Regions from separate parts of the Homo sapiens genome. Here all the other regions are linked to region 2. The links come from fine-mapping of genetic effects on gene expression. A gene starts in region 2. Each other region holds a variant in brackets. All regions are shown on one strand. Distances are between the middles of the regions.

Region 1 (5,000 bases), 200 kb after region 2:
TTTATTTCTTGATTTAGAAGCAAAATATAGGCGCCTAATATTAATCTCTTCAATTTTAGGTTCTAATTCACAACAGTCCAAGTTTAGCAAGTCTAGTAGTTTTCATATAAATACCTCATACAGTTGCAAGCAGATGGCATCTATGAACCCAACTTGCATACTTGGGATTTTGTTTTTCTTCTCCCTGTTCATTAGATCCTGAAAATACAAATACAGACCAGACACACAGATGTGCATTTATTTATTTAGTTAGTTATTACTTTATTATTTTTTGAGATGGAGTCTCACTCTGTTGTCCAGGCTGGAGTGCAGTGGCACCATCTCAGCTCACTGCAACCTCCACCTCCCAAGTTTAAGCTATTCTCCTGCCTCAGCCTCCCTAGTCAGGTGTGCAGTACCACGCCTGGCTGATTTTTTATTTTTATTAGCGACAGGGTTTCACCATGTTGGCCAGGCTGGTCTAGAACTCCTGACCTCAAGGGATCTGACTGCCTTGGCCTCCCAAAGTGCTGGCATCACAGGCATGAGCCATTGTGTGCATTTATTTAAAGAACACAAAGCTGGCTCTAGAAAGGTGAATCAGTGGGTTAGCCTAGGAAGGTCAGACAGCAACTAATACAAAAAGAAAAAAAGAGGAAAACTCTTATGTTTTATTTCAAGGAAACTCATTCCAAAAAACAGAAGTGGGCTGAGAGGAATCTTTACTTGTATCTGAGATCCATACTCTATGTAAAAAGGCAGTATGTATCAAAGACCTTTAAATTCTGTTTGCCCTTCAACACGACAACTTTGGGAATTTATGCTAACAAGATAATGAAGAATGAGGTTTGGCGGTTTATCTATTCCCTTGGTGTAATGTTTGCAGTGTTCACTATTACAAACAGCACTGTGATAAACATCTATGATAGATGAAACACTGCTCTGAACACACTTCTGAGGAGAACTTTGAACAAAGGAGTAAACAAGTAGAATGCTGAGAAAACTGGGGAGACTGTGGTGGTGGCATGACATCTGGTCATCTTTCCTCCATGTTTCTTTTGGTATCTCTCCTTCCTTTCTCTGTCAGCCACAGCTTCTCTATTAAATTCTTTTGATGGCGAGAACCAAGGAGTAGGAGTGAAACATCTATGATGGATGTTTATCACAGTGCTGTTTGTAATAGTGAACACTGCAAATATTACACCAAGGGACGTAGGTAAATTATGGTTACATCGATTTCATGTAATCATGATAATACATAAGAATATTTGTTAAAATGAAAAGTGGTTTCTAATACTTAAGCGGAAAAAAACAAATTACAAAGAACACTGATACAATATGATGAACCCAAGAGTCTTTATTATGCCTTTTATTGGTTTTGCTTTCTGTAATGAACATGTATAATTCTTCCAATGAGAAAAAAGTTTTAAAAAATAAAATGAGAAATTGTGGTCCTAAGGAAAGATCCCATAGAGCCATAAAAAGGAGTCTACAATTAAAAAAAAAACAATTTGAATAATTCCTACCAACAAGGTTTCATACTTACAGTGGGTTCTATGTTGAGTTCTTTTCTCTCTCTGTCTCCTTGATCAAAAAATTCAGTTGCTACAAGTTCTGCTATCTGAAATAAATAACAGACTCAGTTTTGACAATGAAAAGCATATCATTCTTTAAAACAGAGACCGTGAATGAAGGCCCTGTTAGGAGCTGTATATCTCCATTTTATAGCAAATAAGCAGCAGCTTGATACCCGAAGACAAGTAGTCCATGTCCAAAGCGTGCTCTCTTAACTATTACATTATACTCTTTTTCACTTAGGTACATCTCTCTGTCTTTGGTAGCTTCCAACATTTTTCCCTTTTAATTTTATTTAAAAATGTTTTCTTCATTTATTTTCTCCCCATAAAACAGTATGTACAAGGGTTTGATTCAGGGGAGAGAAAGGATATATGAAGACACATTCTTCCCTCTTCTATTCTCTTACCTGGTTAGAAATAAATAGGCATATAGTCCTGTTTATTATGGGCAGGAAGGTAGGTAAAGATCACCTAAGTGCTTATGGCGTGTTGGCTTTGGCACATGGAGAATGAGTTTTTGATCTTGTTTTCTCGGCATGTCTGTTTCATGAGATGAGCCTGTAGGAAGAGTTACTAGGCTCCCTGACTAAGCAGCCCGGAGTCTTGACCAACAGCAGGCTGTCAACAATCCTAAATAGCATATTTATTACGGACTCAAAATGAAATCTTGAAAAACAAAAACACAATATATATGTCACTGCATGGACATCCATCACTTTTTCTGAGCCTGTATTGCCTCT[G/C]CAAAACATTATAGCAGTTACTTAGAGGGAAGGATTTTTTTCTAGCCTCCTGGTAACAGGCTCCATTCAGAACTTTCTCGACATCTTATATCAATACTTCCTACATCTACAAGCCCCAGAAATCTCTATGTTCTACTTGTTAATGTCTATTTAGAGCTGAGGCACAGCGTAGAAGGCTAACCATAAGAAAAGTAATTTTGCTTCTTCTAATTTTCAAGGTCATTAAAGGGATGACCTTAAGAAACAAGTAAGCCAGAAGTATAAGTTATATTCCAAATCCAAAAATCTGAAACCTAAAATGCTGGTTCAATGAGCATTTTCTTTAAGTGTCATGTCAGTACTCAAAATGCTTTGAATTTTGGAACATTTTGGGTTTTTGCATTAAGTATGCTCAGCCTTTCACACTGAAATGAAAACTGTGCTAATGTAGATGCTCTCTTTCTTAATATATCTTACAAATATTATGTGCAAATGCATCTTCTAAAAAGAAAAGCCTTTGTATGTCCAATTATCTGTTTTTAATACTACTTAAAAATTCCAAAAAAAATTCCATACTTACTTCAGAAGCTACCTTTAAGAGTAAAAACTTACTTAAAAAAATTTTTTTTATTTTAGATTTAGGGGGTATATGTGCATGTCTGGTATATATGTATATTGTGTATTGGTGGGGACTGGGCTTCTAGTATACCCATTACCCAAACAGTGAACATTGTACCCAGTAGGTTGTTCTTCACCCCTTGTTCTTTTCCCACCTTTCCCCCTTTTGGAGTCCCCAGTGTCTATTATTTCCATCTTTATGTCCGTGTGTACCTACTGTTTGGCTCCCACTTATGAGTGAGAATGTGCAGTGTTTGATTTTCTGTTTCTGAGTTAGTTCATTAAGGATAATTGGCCTCCAGCTCCAATCATGTTGCTGCAAAGGACATGACTTGATTCTTTTTATGCCTGCATAGTATTCCATGGTGCATATGTACCACATTTTCTTTATCTAATCAACTGTTGATGGACAGTTAGGTTAGTTCCATGACTTTGCTATTATATAATAAATGGTGCTGTGATGAACATATAAGTGTCTTTTTTATATAGTCATTTATTTTTCTTTAGGTAGATACCTAGTAGTGGGATTGCTGGGTAGAATGTTATTTTGACTTTTTAATTATTGTTATTGTCACTAAGTAACATACCCGTTGTTGAATAGGCCAGGGTTTTGTAATTGCAGAAAGATCACAAGCTGTCATCAGCATTGCCCTGTTATGGAAAAAAGAAACCCAAAACTCCTATTTACTTTTGTGTTATTATATACCCTCAGTAAATAGTTACTAATAAAAAAAAGTTAAAACCCTCTAAACAATGGAAATGGCAGTTTATAAAGACCAAAGAAAAAGAAACAATTTATATGAAAGTCTAACTAATACATTGATAACAGAGCATCATTGTTTCAGTTTCCCTTTGAACTTTTGGAATTTGTCCTCAAACTGCCTCATTTAGCTCCAGATTGGCAGACTGAAAAATTATTAACCTTGGGTAAAATCTTGCCTGCTTTTATTATTTTTGTCACCTTAGTATTCCATTCTCAGCGACAGTATGATGAAAGTACATTGATTACTAATAACCATTAAAGTACAACATCAGGTATCATACTGATAAAAGTCTTATATCAGAAATTATAGTAGGTCATCCTAATTCACTCAACACACATGGTAACTTCTAAATGAAAAGCCTTTGAATGATTAATCATGTTTTTCAGCTTTCTCCTTTATTGTTTCTGCATGTTGAATTATAGTTAGGAAAGTTTTCTCACTCCTAGGTTATAGAAGAATCCATCTATATTTTTATTTAATGCTTGTATGATTTAATTCTCTACATTGAACTCTATGCTTCAGTTGGAATTTAAGTCTGTAGAGTAGATCCAATTTTGTCTTTTTCCATTTGGTTATCCACTTATCTCTCTCTTTCCTCCAGTCACTGGAAATGTTATCTTTATTATACACTATATGTCTTATGCAGTTCTAGATTTTCAGCTGTGTTCCACTGGTCTGCCACCAATATCAAACTGTTTTAATCATAGAGACTTAATAGTATTCCTTCCATGTCTGGACCCTGACCTCACTGCTCTACCTTTTCAGATTTTCTTTAAGAGAAGTAAACATTTTGCAGCTATATCTTACTTCCACAACATTTATAATTCCATTTTCAGCACTTCCATTACAATGAATTAGGAAAATGAATAAGGGAAACCTATAGCCATATATTGATACTCTACCACATTTTAAAGGTTTTTCTAGAACAAAGGAACAGTTCATTCACTTGGATTTGCAAATGCATTTCTTTTCAAGTAAATATTCAAATTTACTCTTTGTACAACCCTCTGGAGAAATCTGACCGCTTTTAAGATCATCATATTGTAACAAATAATTGCAATAAAAACTAACAGTGAGGAAAAAATAGTGAGAAAATTAACTGGGTAAAAAACTTCAGCTTTAAAGATAGTAAACCTACTTACAAAAACAACTCCTTTTGATGAGGATCTTCCAAATTGAATTGATTTTTTCTTATAAGTTCAAAAAATTCTCCTCGCCTCCTACAATGTTTAAAAAAAAATTGTTAGTTATAATGAGTACCCAGGGTCTTATCCCTTTGGTCCACAAAGACTCATGGACTAAATTTTGGTGAAAAAAAACCTCTGATTTTTTTTCCCATCTTA
Region 2 (5,000 bases):
AAGGCAAGAATGCCTTTTTGTTTTGTTCACTGCTGTGTCTAAAATAATGCCTGGCTCAAATATTTGTTGAATGAGTAAATATGCTGACTTTGCTGAAGTATTTAAGCAAGTTACAGATATTATACAAGTAAATATTTTGGGCACAAGCACACTTAATGAAACAGTAAAAAAAAAATAGGTTTGAAACACATAATCCTTCGTTATAGGAGGCTCAAGAGTTTAAAAGGAAAAAAGGGGGAAGATACCCAGGTAAGAGGGCATGCATGCTAGCTTTCCAATACTTTGATATTACCTGCTTTTTCTAAGACTGTATCAACCTGTCGCCCACCCATAACCTATCTTTTCATAACAGAGTCCAACTAAACCTAAAAATTAAAACTGGAACCTAGCAGCTTCTACGCAATCTAAGAATACTTTGTTCCCTCTCTCAAAATCTTTCCCTGCTTTTGAATAATTGACTTTTGAATTCATAAAAACCTTCCCTTATTAATCATCCTATTACTTGCATCATAGTAAACCCTGATCAACTCTTAAAACATTAAAAGACATTACTATATTTCTTAATGAATACACAAGACCTTTAAGTACAAATGCTTTTATATTCAGCCCCTGTAAAGCCATCAGATGTTTGAAAGTTTTTAAACACGAACCAAAGGGTTTAATTTTAAGAACTTAGCTAGGAATGGGTGAAATCCTACCCAATTAATAGAGTTCTGCAAATTAGTAACAAAGTGTAAAATGAAAGGAAGGGTCCCTTGGAGATGTGAAATTCTTCTATTGAGAGTCCTGTCTTCTTTATTCAAGAAGTTTGTAGCCATTTTCAGAATTCACTCAAGAACCAACTTCTTAATTTAGATATCAGCGAACAAGTCTGTAAAAAGCAAGTATTTGTCAGCAATATGTGCTTTATCTTCCCAGTTTTTAACACTTTATGCCTATTTACATATTGATAAAAAGAAAAGCCTAGAACATTTCTTGTAAGGCCTCTATTTTCTATCCAGAGCTGAAAGTTCAGGTCATAAAAACACACACACACACAAAACCCACTGTATTTGAGATTATCAGTCTCTACCAAAACAGGGAGGGAGAGTAAAACTCTCCCTTTACAAATGGCTTGACAGAGAATTTTATAGAAATCCCTATCCCTTTTGCCATCCTCCCATTAATCCCTCTCGCTCCCCTGCCACCCCTTTTTTTGAGACAGGGTTTGCTTTGTCTCCCAGACTGGAGTATAGTGGCACGTTCACAGCTCACTGAAGCCTCGACCTCCCCAGCTCAAGCAATCCTCCTATTTCAGCTTCCCAAGTAGCTGGGACTACAGGCGTGAGCCACTGTGCCTGGCCCTCTCTGTCTTCTCTAACTTACTACACCATCCAAGAAATGAGACAGTGAGGCTTAAGACACCCAAATCTTGGTGAAAATATAGGATGGGGGTTGGGGGTGTAGAAGAAGTGACTGCCTATCAAGAAGTGAGAATTTCAGAAGTAACTCATAGGCATGGTGACTAAGGAGTTAACAGTGAGTGAACAATCAACTCCAAAGTCCAGGAGAGCTGTCTAGATGGGCTACACTGCTCTTCTCCCATAGGAGCCCTGTTTCATCTCACTGCTTCTCCTTAGCTTGTCTCTTAACACCATCTCCATTTGGTGTCTGCTTCCTCCTGCCCTATTCTCTTAAGTTCCCTTCCTTTACCCTCTGCCAGAATTGTCTTTTCAGAGCGAGTGGCGATGAAAATGGAGAGCATGGGTTTTACAAGTAAACTCTACAGAATTTTGTAACTTGGTGTTTTAGGATATGTGGATGTGTGTAAGAAAAGGGCAAAGTGTCTCAGGTTTCTGGGAGGTAACGGTGGATAAAGTTGGCGTTTACTGAAATGGTAACGCTGCAAGGCAAGTAAATTTGGGTAAGAAGCTGTTAAGAGTTCAGTTTTGGACATGTTTAGTTTGAGACAGCTGCGTGGTCTGCTCATGGTTAAACAGCTGTATAGTAAAAATAGCTTTCGTTGAGCACTTACTACTGCCAGGCAACATGCAAATCACTACGATCTCAATCTTCACTACACCCCTATGACCTGGGTTACTAATGGTCCCAAATGGCAGATGAAAAAATAAAGCTCCAAAAGGCGAAATAACTTCTCCGGTCGCTTCATGGTGCTGCAGGAACTCAAGCCTAGCTGGTTTCATTCCAAATCATGAGAAAATATGACGCCAAGTTTTCTCCACACTTCTTTGGAGACTCCCACGGACGTGCTAAAGAAGGACATTTTACTCCTAGTCCTTCTCCCCCACCCACCCGACTGCGCCACTCACCAGCTGTGTGATCTTGGACATATATAAACTCTCTGGAATTCAGTCCCCTCCCCGCCCAAAAGCGAGCAAATGATCTCTAAGCTCCTTACCACCCCAATTTTGCATTCGAGATACTCACCATGGCAAAAAATACACAAAGAGAAACACCACCACATCGAAAAGGATGAAAAGCCAGAGGTCCAACCAGTAGGAGTGTTTGGGAAGCCCATTTGCCCCAGACTGAGGCCTCACATCGAAGTTCTGCCTCCCTCCCTCGCTAAAGCCTCGCCGCTCCCGGAGACCATCTCGACCATCAACACCCGGTGCGTCCACCTCCATCTCGCTCCTGCAGCTTCGTAACAACCCTAGAAACCGAAAATGCTTAAGTTCCCGGACTTTGGTGTTCGCCGCACCGGAAACTGAGCGGAGTCCGGCCGCCTGCGCAGTGCGCCGCGCCCCGGGTTCCGGAATGCACTCTGAACCTACTCTTCCCAGCGCGCAGGCGCCTGGCTCGGCTTTCCGCTGCCTCCGTGACCGCTGGCATGAAGCGCGGCCTCCGCCTTGACACTAAGTCAATGGGCCCGCCTACTTCTGCCTCGCGGCGTCCCAGGCAGATAGCTGGTTATTCAGGTTTCGTTGGAAGAAATACGTTCTCGTCCCCCTGAAAGGCCCAGTCCAGTCAGGTGATGGACTCCTCCCTGAAACTGCACGAGGTCACCTCTCCTATCCCCGTATTCCGTTTGGATCCTTATGCCAACGTGTTAGGAAGGCCCCCTCTGGTGGGTTTTGTACTGTCTCTAGCATTTGACACTTAATATTTAAACACCACCAATGAGGTGGACGTCCTACTCACGGGACTGAGTTTCCAAACGGGCCAGAGAGCAGCACGTGAGCATTTTGCAGGTACTTCAAGGGAGTGGGTTTAAGAATAACCTGGCCGCGCCCCCCTGTAATCCCAGCACTTTGAGAGGCCGAGGCGGGCGGATCACCTGAGGTAAGGAGTTCGAGACCAGCCTGGCCAACATGCTGAAATCCCGTCTCTACTAAAAAAAAAAAAAAAAAAAAAAAAATCCAAAAATTAGCCGGGCGTGGTGGCAGGCGCCTGTAATCCCAGTTACTCGGGAGGCTGAGGCAGGAGAATCGCTTGAACCCGGGAGGCGGAGGTTGCAGTGAGCTGAGATCGTGCCACTATTGCACTCCAGCCTGGGCAACAGAGCGAGACTCCATCTGGGGGGAAATGGGGGTGGGAAGAATAACCCAAAGGTTATTTGACTTTGAGTGTGAGCCTCAGCAAGAACAGAATGCTAGCAGGAAGAAAATGACCTATACTGCCTGGATTTTACCTCGTGGGTCCAATTTCAAATATTCTCTTTCTTGTCACATTATGATTCCTGAATTGTTCAGAAAATAACGGGCACCCAGACATATAAGTGGTTCTCTTGGTGCATAGTAAATGGAGATAAGACTGTAGTTGTGTTTTTACAAAGTCATTAAATCGTCGTAAAACCTCTTTGAAGGGGCAGTACTCCATCTTATAGAATTAGGAAATGAGACACAAAAGGAGTGAATTGTCTAAGGTTACTAAAAAAATTATAAAGCCTAAAATTAACTCCAAATCCAGCACTCTTAAAGCTGTTCCATAGCTTCCTAACCTTGCTCCAATTTGCCTCCAAATCAATTGCCAGGTTTTAGAGACAAAGATAGTATACGACCTTTCAAGAAAAATGCTTTGTAGATTCTGGGATGAGAGGGCCATTACCTGAGAATTAATTAGATTGTGTGCTGTAATACAGATTGTCTGATGGTAGTAGACAAAAAGACCCTGGGCTTAAGTGGCATTGAATCTTTACAAAAATTAGGAAAGGCAAATAAACAATTGCCTCTACCAGAGATGGAAGCATTCTTCTCGCTGACAAGGTAGGATCAATTACTCCTAGTTATTGAAGTAGGATTGATAAAAAATTATTGAGATTATTAGTGTTGAAGAAGCATGACATAAACTGAACAGGTCTTGAAATGGTTTTAAACTTGTCTTTGGCCCAGAGTCACATGCTCATCATGAGGGGATGTTGACAGTATGATCTGTTCTAGAGTCAGGAACGTCTGCCAGACTTGGAAGAGCAACTAGTGCAAATAAGGAGGGGTTATTTAAACTAAATTCAGTTGAAAGATTCTATTTCCGACTTTACCCTTGTAAAAGTCCCACTGATTGTTGATTATTCCACATTACAGAAATGAGTTTAGAGTGTGTTATGGCTGATTTTGAACTACTGGCCTCAAGTGATCCTTCTGCCTCGACTTCCCAAAGTACTGGGATTACAGGCATGAGCCACCTTGCTCAGTTGGCATTTGCCATTATCAAAGCAATTTAAATTTTAAAAAGTACTGTACTGAAATCCAGGTTCACTGTCAGTCATGCAATACCTCGGCACTTGTCCAACCACCTTGAACTTTCTACTTCACATGTTCAACTGAAAAATATGCACCAGGGACTACAGATTGAATCATTGCACTGCAACCATGATCCAACACTTCCATAATTCTGTCAGCACAATTAATCTGATTGAGCTGGGGTGGAGAAGGTGGTGTATGAAAATGCTATAACCATCAGGCCAAAGACAGCTAAGTGTTTTTAAGAAGACGTTACAGATCTTCTGAACTTCAAGTGCAATAAGTTTTCAGGAGGGAGATGATGATGAATTTTGCTTTAAC
Region 3 (8,666 bases), 270 kb before region 2:
GAGCATAGACCTGACCTCTCATTTCCCTTGGTCTTTGATCTCTTACTGGAGTAAGAATATTCCAGTAGATTATGACACAGTGCTTATGGCAGGGCTGCTTTTACTTTCTGCAAAGTAATCTCTTTTTTCTTTCTTTTTTGCTAAAGTTTGCTTAGTACCATGCCTGGAGTAGCTGATTTCAATGAAGCATTTCTCTCTTTGACATATTCCCTAATATCCAGGCTCCCTGGTGCCCCACTATACTGGGATGGTTTTTATCAGTCCATTTAGCTATACAGCTCTCTCCTCAAACAAGTTGCCCCGTCCTGTACCTCCTTCTTATAGTCATGGCGTTTCATTCACCTTGGCAATGGGAAGGATTTTAAAATTTATTGTAATGCAGGAGGTTACTTTCTCACTGGAGTAAAACCTTACAATGTGGAATTATCATCATCATAATAATAATGTTTTAAGACGGGGTCTTGCTCTGTCCCCCAGGCTGGAGTGCAGTGGCATGATCTTGGCTCACTGCAACCTCCACCTCCTGGCTCAAACAATCCTCCCACTTCTCCTGTGTGGCTAGGATCACAGGCATGCACCACCAAGCGGGCTAATTTTTGCATTTTTTGTAGGTTTTTTTTTTTTTTTTTTTTTTTTTTAGAGACAGGGTCTTACCATATTGACCGGGCTGGTCTCAAACTGCTGAGCTCAAGAGATCCACCTGCCTCAGCTTCCCGAAGTGCTGGGATTATAGGCATCAGCCACTGTGCCTGGCCTGAATTATTTATTTTATTTTATTTTATTTTAATTGTATTTTATTTTATTTTATATTTTATTTTATTTTAATTTTATTTTATTTTATGTTTTATTTTATTTTATTTTATATTTTATTTTATTTTATTTTATTTTATTTTTGAGACAGAGTCTTGCTCTGTTGCCCAGGCTGGAGTACAATGGTGCGATATTGGCTCACTGCAACCTCCACCTCCCGGGCTCATGCAATTCTCCTGCCTCAGCCTCCTGAGTAGCTTGGACTACAGGCGCACACCACCATGCCCAGCTAATTTTTGTACTTGTTAGTAGAGACGGGGTTTCACCATGTTGGCCAGGCTGGTCTCGAACTCCTGACCTCGTGATCCACCCGCCTTGGCCTCCCAAAGTGCTGGGATTACAGGCATAAGCCACCACGCCTGGCCTGAATAATTATTTTTAATGCCATCAATGTAAGCCTTTAACATCTTTTTTCACTCTTCTCTATTTTTTATTTCTTTAATTCTGTCTGGTACCTTTACATTGATTTATTTACTTTCTTTTTTCCTGTTTACTTACAATGCTATGAATTAAATGTTCATATTATGGTACATGATAAAGTGTGTGGCTGTGTGTGTGTTCATAAGGTGGTAAGAAGTATTTAAATGGTCTTACAGGTTAACAGGTGAATTAAAATTCAGGGCTGGTGTTACTGTTGACAGATTTGTTTCTCAGAGATGGTGGCTTGCTTTTTACAAATTATATCATTCTACTATGTCTTCTTTTTTTACTCCACTCAGATTCGAAATCAGAGCAAAGCCTCTGGGTCTGGGCTCTGTGAGGGAGATGAAGTGGTTTCCATCAATGGCAACCCTTGTGCAGATCTCACCTACCCTGAAGTCATCAAGCTCATGGAAAGCATAACAGACTCTCTCCAAATGCTCATCAAAAGGTACAACAGATTTGCTGGAATATGTATTTTCTCTTGAAGCTACATGGGAATGATTATAGCTTTTACTACATATATAACTTGTCATTTATGGAGAAATTAGGGGTGCTTTGTAGAAGGTTAGGTATAGTTAAACAGAAACACCACTGTGTTTGAAAAATAGTCAATTCTAGTCAACCAAACTTTCTGGTTAATTGAGAATTAAGTTGAAAATGCTTGTTTCAAGCACTTTGTTGAAAATCTTAGGTATTTTAGGCTCCTTCCTTAGAAAGCTCAGTATATTGAGCATAACTTAATATTTCTTTGATAGGTCAAGATTTTGTGATGGATCAGAATCACTCAATTGTAATTATCAGATGCACAGATGAATTAAAAATGTTTAAATATTAGACCATTAAACTGTACAATTTTTCATTAAAAGGATGCTTAAGAGACAGAAAAGAGAAACAACAACAAAAACTTACAAGCAGCCGGATTTCTCCAGTAAAACCAATATTTGAGGATGGACAAAAGCAGATGATTAGAATAAGGTTTTTGCACGACCAACACAGGTCATTTGGGAATTCAATCTCTTCAAATACCACCATCCCCACATAGTTGTTTAACAATATAAAAGAAACCTTTAAATGTAAAAAACAAAAGAAAACAATGAGGACAATAACAAGGAAAACTACAGCATTGACATTTTTATGGTGTACAAATCACAGTACAATCCATACTGATTTTGCAACGGAAGCTCTGGCTATTGCATGATAATGAATCCAGAAAGGAAAGCTTTGGCTTCCTGGAGAGCAGCTTTTAGGAAGATGTCAGAGGACATCTCAAGATGAACCTCAAGGTCCTCCAGGTTTTTCCTCAACTCTGCAGAAACACTACGCACAGTTACCCCTCTGCTAATCATTCAGTATGATTCTGTTCCGGGATGAAAATGAACTCACTATGGCCAAAATCTTGAGACAACAATGGAAATCTAGCATTATTCTTATAATCTAAATATTTACCCATCAAACTCAGTGTTTAAGGCCTTAGAATCCTTCCTTCATGTTATGAAGAGAAAATAAGTTTATAAAATACATAATTTACTAATACATAATTAAATTTATAAAATAAAAAAAATTACAAAGTAAGTAACTAATTGGTAGGATTCAAAGTGGAATCTCAATTGAAAATCAAGTCAAAAGCAATTATTATCATCACCACCACTACCACTATTTTAAATATCTGAATATTGTTTCCTGCAATAAATATTTCTGTCACTCATATCACTGTCATCTATCAGTAGAGGACAAGTGTTTTTACTTTTCCTGAACTATTGCCCAGAGATAGCTCAGTAAGACTATTTTAAAATAACTCCTTTAACATTCCATCTCTATTATCTTGAATGTTCTTAAAATAAGATTTTAAAAATTCTATAATTGTGACACATAAATTGTGGACTTGATGAATACCTATGTAGACTGATGGGAAATGAATGTTTTAAGGCATAAAGCTTTATTCGCTCATGCTTTTATGATATTTACTCATGTCTATTTATTTTACTTCAGCTGCTGATAAATGTTAATATTTATCTGGCCATTTGTCTGTATTGGTCTACAAGGCTGGCATGAATTGAAACTATTCTCTTCTCAGCTTCACAATTGATTGCTAACGTTATTCAAAGTGATTTAATCTACTTCCATCCCAAGGCCTTCCTAAATTAAAACTCTCTGACCTTTTGGTACCCTCAAATTCAGTTTAACAATGTATTTAACATTTTCTACATAATAATGATCTAATTTGCTAACATCATGCTTTTTTAATACGATATTATAATGTTGTATAAATACTGTATTACAGGGAAGCTTTTCCAATTACTTGCGTATAGAGAAAGGTGCATTTTGTTTAACTGTTAGTTTGTTTTCATTTTGTTTAGTTTTGTTTTGCCAAATGCAGTTGAAAGCAAAGGTAGGAGTAAGTATTTTGAGCATTGGTCGGAAATTGCACTACCACATAAATTCTAAGGTAAATTCCTTTGAGTAGAATCCAAGTAGAAGCTCACGCCCTTCAGCTGACGTGCCTGCATGAGTCATAACTGTCTTTTAAGGAAGGAGGAAAGGGGCAAAGATAATTATGCTGCTTCCAAAATTAAAAAAAATACAAATATAAAAAATGAAGGCATTTCCTACAGCTGTTCTGTGAATAATACCTCTAAAAACATTTACAGTTTAAATTAGAGTTTCAGAAAGAAGTTATTTAACTCTTAAACTGACATTGCTTCTTCTCAGAAACCCAAATTTGCACAGACAACTGGGAAGATCAAAATCAAAGAGCTGTGGTGTACAGCTCTAGGCTCCTTAGCTGAGAGATAAAGGAACAGTTTGACTTCAGATATCCTAAAAAGAAAATGCTCCAAGAAACAGATCCAAATAGAAGAAAGGGAGACATCTCAGATTATAAATACTCCATGACTTAATG[A/G]TTCATTGCAGCACGGAAAGGATTTCTCTTTACGCAAGAGTACTGGGCTGGGTCCACTTATTACGAAACACATGCTCACTGGGGCTTAAAAAACAGCTTCTATTTCATTCCTTTCAAGAAAGCACAGCCTCTAAAAGGACTAGTTGAGTTATCTGTAAGTTAAGATTGATCTGAAGGTGCTGGATATGTTTATGTGACTTCATAATGTCTAGACCAAAACTTAGTCAATAAGACATTGAAATGCTTTGTCACATTCTAGCAAACTCATTATAAGAGATACCCAGATTCCAAGTACTTACAGATAAACGGGATCCATGTAGTTTTTTAAAAATAAAAGCTGAATTTAGGATGGATTCAGGTTTCATAATCTTGTGTAAGAGTTTCTTTGTGCTTTTAAAAAAGTTTATTTGGTATCTCTTTAAGTAATAATATGAACATGTTGCCACCTTCTGTTTTCAAATATGTTGCAACTGACATTTAGAAGAAAATATTTTGACTATATCACATATTAGACATCACAAAAGTGTCAGGAAGTTCTTTGGCAGATGTAACATAGTCTGATTTAAGTGTCTGGAATGATTTTTCTGTGTGCAGACCATCCAGTGGAATAAGTGAGGCTTTGATATCTGAAAATGAAAACAAAAACCTCGAGCATCTCACACATGGGGGTTATGTGGAAAGTACCACCCTGCAGATTCGACCGGCCACAAAGACCCAGTGCACAGAATTCTTCCTCGCCCCTGTCAAGACTGAAGTTCCCCTAGCTGAGAACCAAAGAAGTGGTCCCGACTGTGCAGGCAGCTTGAAAGAAGAAACAGGCCCGAGCTACCAAAGGGCTCCCCAAATGCCTGACTCCCAAAGAGGACGCGTGGCAGAAGAGCTGATCTTAAGGGAGAAGGTAGAAGCGGTACAGCCTGGGCCTGTGGTTGAGCTGCAACTGTCCCTTTCACAGGAGAGACATAAGGGCGCTAGTGGCCCTTTAGTGGCTCTCCCGGGAGCTGAAAAATCTAAGTCTCCTGACCCAGACCCTAACTTGTCACATGACAGGATTGTCCACATAAATTCGATCCCTACTAATGAGAAAGCAGACCCTTTCCTGAGGTCCAGCAAGATAATCCAGATCTCCAGTGGCAGAGAGTTGAGAGTGATCCAGGAAAGTGAAGCAGGAGATGCGGGACTGCCCCGGGTGGAAGTGATCCTCGACTGCTCTGACAGGCAGAAGACAGAAGGGTGCAGGCTTCAGGCAGGAAAGGAGTGTGTGGATTCTCCAGTGGAAGGAGGGCAGTCAGAAGCACCTCCTTCTCTGGTATCCTTTGCCGTCTCATCAGAAGGCACAGAGCAGGGAGAAGATCCACGCTCGGAAAAAGATCACAGCAGACCTCACAAGCACCGAGCGCGGCATGCACGTAAGTTCTGCCTGGGCTTTCAGAAGGGGCTTGGGAGTTGGGGGCATTTTGCTGCTTCTTTGCTTGCATGAGTTTTTCAGCAAGATTTTTCTTATGTTTCTCATTGGCTTAAAGAAATATTTAATTAATGCACAAAATCACAAATGTGAAATTGTGGAGAATACCAATTTCTAAATAGGAAGCAATAAGTCCGAACTTCATATAGATTTAAACATTTTTCATGAATTTCTTTTTATCCCCAAAGGCACAGGAACTGTTAAAGAAAATAATATTGTCAATGTGCCTGTTCATTTTGTTTCAGACAGTTGAAATAGTTCATGTTAAAATAGCATAAGAAAGCACTTGAAGTCATGTGGACTCAGTTTAAATGTCAAAAACTGTTGAGTCTGCTACTGAGAGGTGTCTTTAAAATAAAAGCTCTACCATTGATATCAAAAGCAGATCCTTGTTTTGAAAAAAAATCATTGTGCAGCTTGATGATGCTTGCAGAAGTGAGTTTGACAGACAAGGACATGTGTATACTGAGCAGTTACATGATCCTCTCCGTTGTGTAAGTCTTCATTTGACTGCAAAGTGTTTCATCTACCTTCTAGACACAGAAGTCAGTCTCCAGGGCCATGTGGAGGCATTTAAATGTCTCCAAACATAAAATATATTTAAATTCAGTGCTTTGTATGGCATTTTGTTTTACCCAGGGGAGAGAAGACAGAAAGGAGAATTGGGATAAGAATTGCAGTTAGGTGTTAGGATTTCTATTGTTTTATTTCACGTTTATTTTTGTTTGTTTTTTTTTTTTTTTTTACTAATTTTGGAATTTTATTTGAGGATGTAAAGGCTGACAGGCAAAGGCACTTGACTGTATATATGATACACAATGGCAATGAATTCGGTTATTCAAAGTAGGATATTAAGTCTTCTAACCTATTGTTATTCCTTTCAAAGCATATTTTTAGCATAACCATTTGTAGCTTTATTGGCAAGTGCTGTTAATCATTCCTTATACTTTAAGCATCTGTAGGCCATCTTCACATTTATAGCATATTAAACAAGAGTATTGAGACACCATTCACATACTTTACATGTTGGCAGTGAAGTTAGCAGCAACTGTGCAACTGTGACTGTCAATTTAATAAGTTGTATAACACTAGTCAAAAAAGGAATTCTATTTAGTAATAACCACAGTTTCAACTATTTTTCTCTAGAAAATTCGATCACCAGTAAATGCCTGTAATCATATTATAAAATTATTTCCTTGGATTATATTTTATTTAAAAAAAATTAACCATTAAGTCTGTGACAAAAAGAGCTAATTTTCAATCATAAAATAGTCAAAAATTTTTTCTTAATTTTCCACTTAACTGTTTTGAGGAATTAAAAAATTTAGGGGACTCACAGTCATTATCATTGAAAATATGATATAACTATAAATTATAAATGATAGATGCTATATGTTTAGTTGCTATAATTTGCCACCCATTTCTTTTTTATAATAGTAATAATGAAAGAAAATTTTAAATATTTTTATTTTTATAAAATAAAAATCATATTCTTGTTTTAAATGACTTAATTTCTGCATCAGTTTTTACACAGTTAAGTGGGTCACAAGTCAATTTTTAAATTTCTCCAAGGTTTATTCTTGCTGCAAGGAAAGTAATATTGTATTTCCAAAATAGCAATACATTTACAAACAAATCTGTCTAGAAAACTTTGTAGCTAGAGTTTCTTATATGTATTTACAATAATGTCATATTTTGAATTTTAATTATTGATTCAGTACCTTCAATGATTAATTCAGTGTTTTGAATTTATATTAATCCAGTAGCTGTGAGTGGAAAGATTTGGGGTGGTTGTCAGGGTAAAAAAAGAAAAAAGAGAAAGAAGAAAACCTAAATAGCTAAATTCATTACATTAAAACATTTAGAAAATTTTAAAACATCTTCTTGGGACGCTCCTCCCTTTTTAAGATTCCTGGAAACAGTTTTATATTGACACTTTATTTTAAAATATGGAAGTATGAGATATGTCTCATCTTGTTTTTCAGAAAATATTATGTCTTTAAATTATGTCCTTCTTAATTCTAATTTTATCCTATTAATTGACATTTACTAGCCAGTTTTTATTATTAAAGTGGAAGGATCTCTAGAGAAACAAATGTATGAAACATATATTCTAATCAGCATATATAAAATATTTTTATGTAAACAAATAGAACAGTATATTATTGTAGAAGGAAACATGTTAAGAGAAATAAGAAAAAGAAATGTGTTGGATTCCTTCAAAATTCTGTACTCAATGGCAATTTTTTACATATTTATTTTCCCCCAGGAGAGTTCATTTCTGAGTTGCTGTGGTGTCTTCCTTGAACTCATCAGCTCAATATAATTTTTTTTTTTTTGCTTTCCCTAGGGCTCAGGAGGAGTGAAAGCCTGTCAGAAAAACAAGTGAAGGAAGCAAAATCTAAATGCAAAAGCATTGCCCTTCTTCTAACGGATGCTCCCAACCCCAACTCCAAGGGGGTGTTGATGTTTAAGAAGCGACGTCGGAGGGCCAGGAAATACACCCTAGTTAGCTACGGTACTGGCGAGCTTGAGCGAGAGGCGGACGAGGAGGAAGAAGGTGACAAGGAGGATACATGTGAAGTAGCATTTCTTGGTGCAAGCGAATCAGAGGTGGATGAAGAGTTATTGTCTGACGTTGACGACAACACACAAGTTGTGAACTTTGACTGGGATTCTGGACTGGTGGACATTGAAAAGAAACTGAACAGAGGGGACAAGATGGAGATGTTACCAGACACCACAGGCAAGGGAGCCCTCATGTTTGCCAAGAGGAGGGAGAGAATGGATCAGATCACAGCCCAAAAAGAAGAGGACAAGGTAGGTGGAACGCCAAGCAGAGAACAAGATGCTGCCCAGACCGATGGCCTGAGAACCACGACTTCTTACCAAAGAAAGGAGGAAGAGTCGGTAAGAACGCAGAGCTCTGTGAGCAAAAGCTACATCGAGGTGAGTCATGGTCTTGGCCATGTTCCCCAACAGAATGGCTTCAGTGGGACATCTGAGACAGCAAACATCCAGAGGATGGTCCCCATGAATAGAACGGCCAAACCCTTCCCAGGGTCTGTGAAT

Direction of the effects. Positions count from the first base shown, and alleles are read on the strand shown. Sizes are in standard deviations (SD) of each study's normalised expression. Not every link is listed here.
For the expression in monocytes after Pam3CSK4 of the gene that starts at base 2,737 in region 2, allele G in region 3 goes with a lower level than allele A (small effect, 0.39 SD a copy in Quach 2016).

What was found. PIP is the estimated chance that this variant, and not a neighbour inherited with it, causes the effect.
Region 1: its variant is fine-mapped to the expression of ARLN in whole blood (TOPMed, PIP above 0.99). The same link has a PIP of 0.9 or more in blood mononuclear cells.
Region 3: its variant is fine-mapped to the expression of ARLN in monocytes after Pam3CSK4 (Quach 2016, PIP 0.95). The same link has a PIP of 0.9 or more in monocytes after LPS.

What each region holds. Positions count from the first base shown.
Region 1 is chr4:119,501,056-119,506,055 of GRCh38, forward strand. PDE5A (phosphodiesterase 5A) reads right to left here. Exons shown (of 21, transcript NM_001083.4): 17 at 4,800-4,877; 18 at 3,481-3,544; 19 at 1,526-1,600; 20 at 115-198. Among named protein-coding and RNA genes, the nearest start is that of LINC01061, 93 kb to the left of the region's middle. The variant G/C (reference allele first, on the strand shown) is at 2,297.
Region 2 is chr4:119,297,909-119,302,908 of GRCh38, forward strand. It overlaps ARLN (allregulin), which reads right to left and starts at 2,737. Exons shown (of 2, transcript NM_001001701.4): 1 at 2,428-2,737; 2 at 1-871. The coding sequence starts at 2,627. The coding sequence ends at 871. RefSeq lists enhancers at 2,331-2,380, 2,481-2,710.
Region 3 is chr4:119,021,901-119,030,566 of GRCh38, forward strand. It overlaps SYNPO2 (synaptopodin 2), which reads left to right. Exons shown (of 5, transcript NM_133477.3): 2 at 1,530-1,681; 3 at 4,727-5,538; 4 at 7,945-8,666. Among named protein-coding and RNA genes, the nearest start is that of SYNPO2-AS1, 42 kb to the left of the region's middle. The variant A/G (reference allele first, on the strand shown) is at 4,133.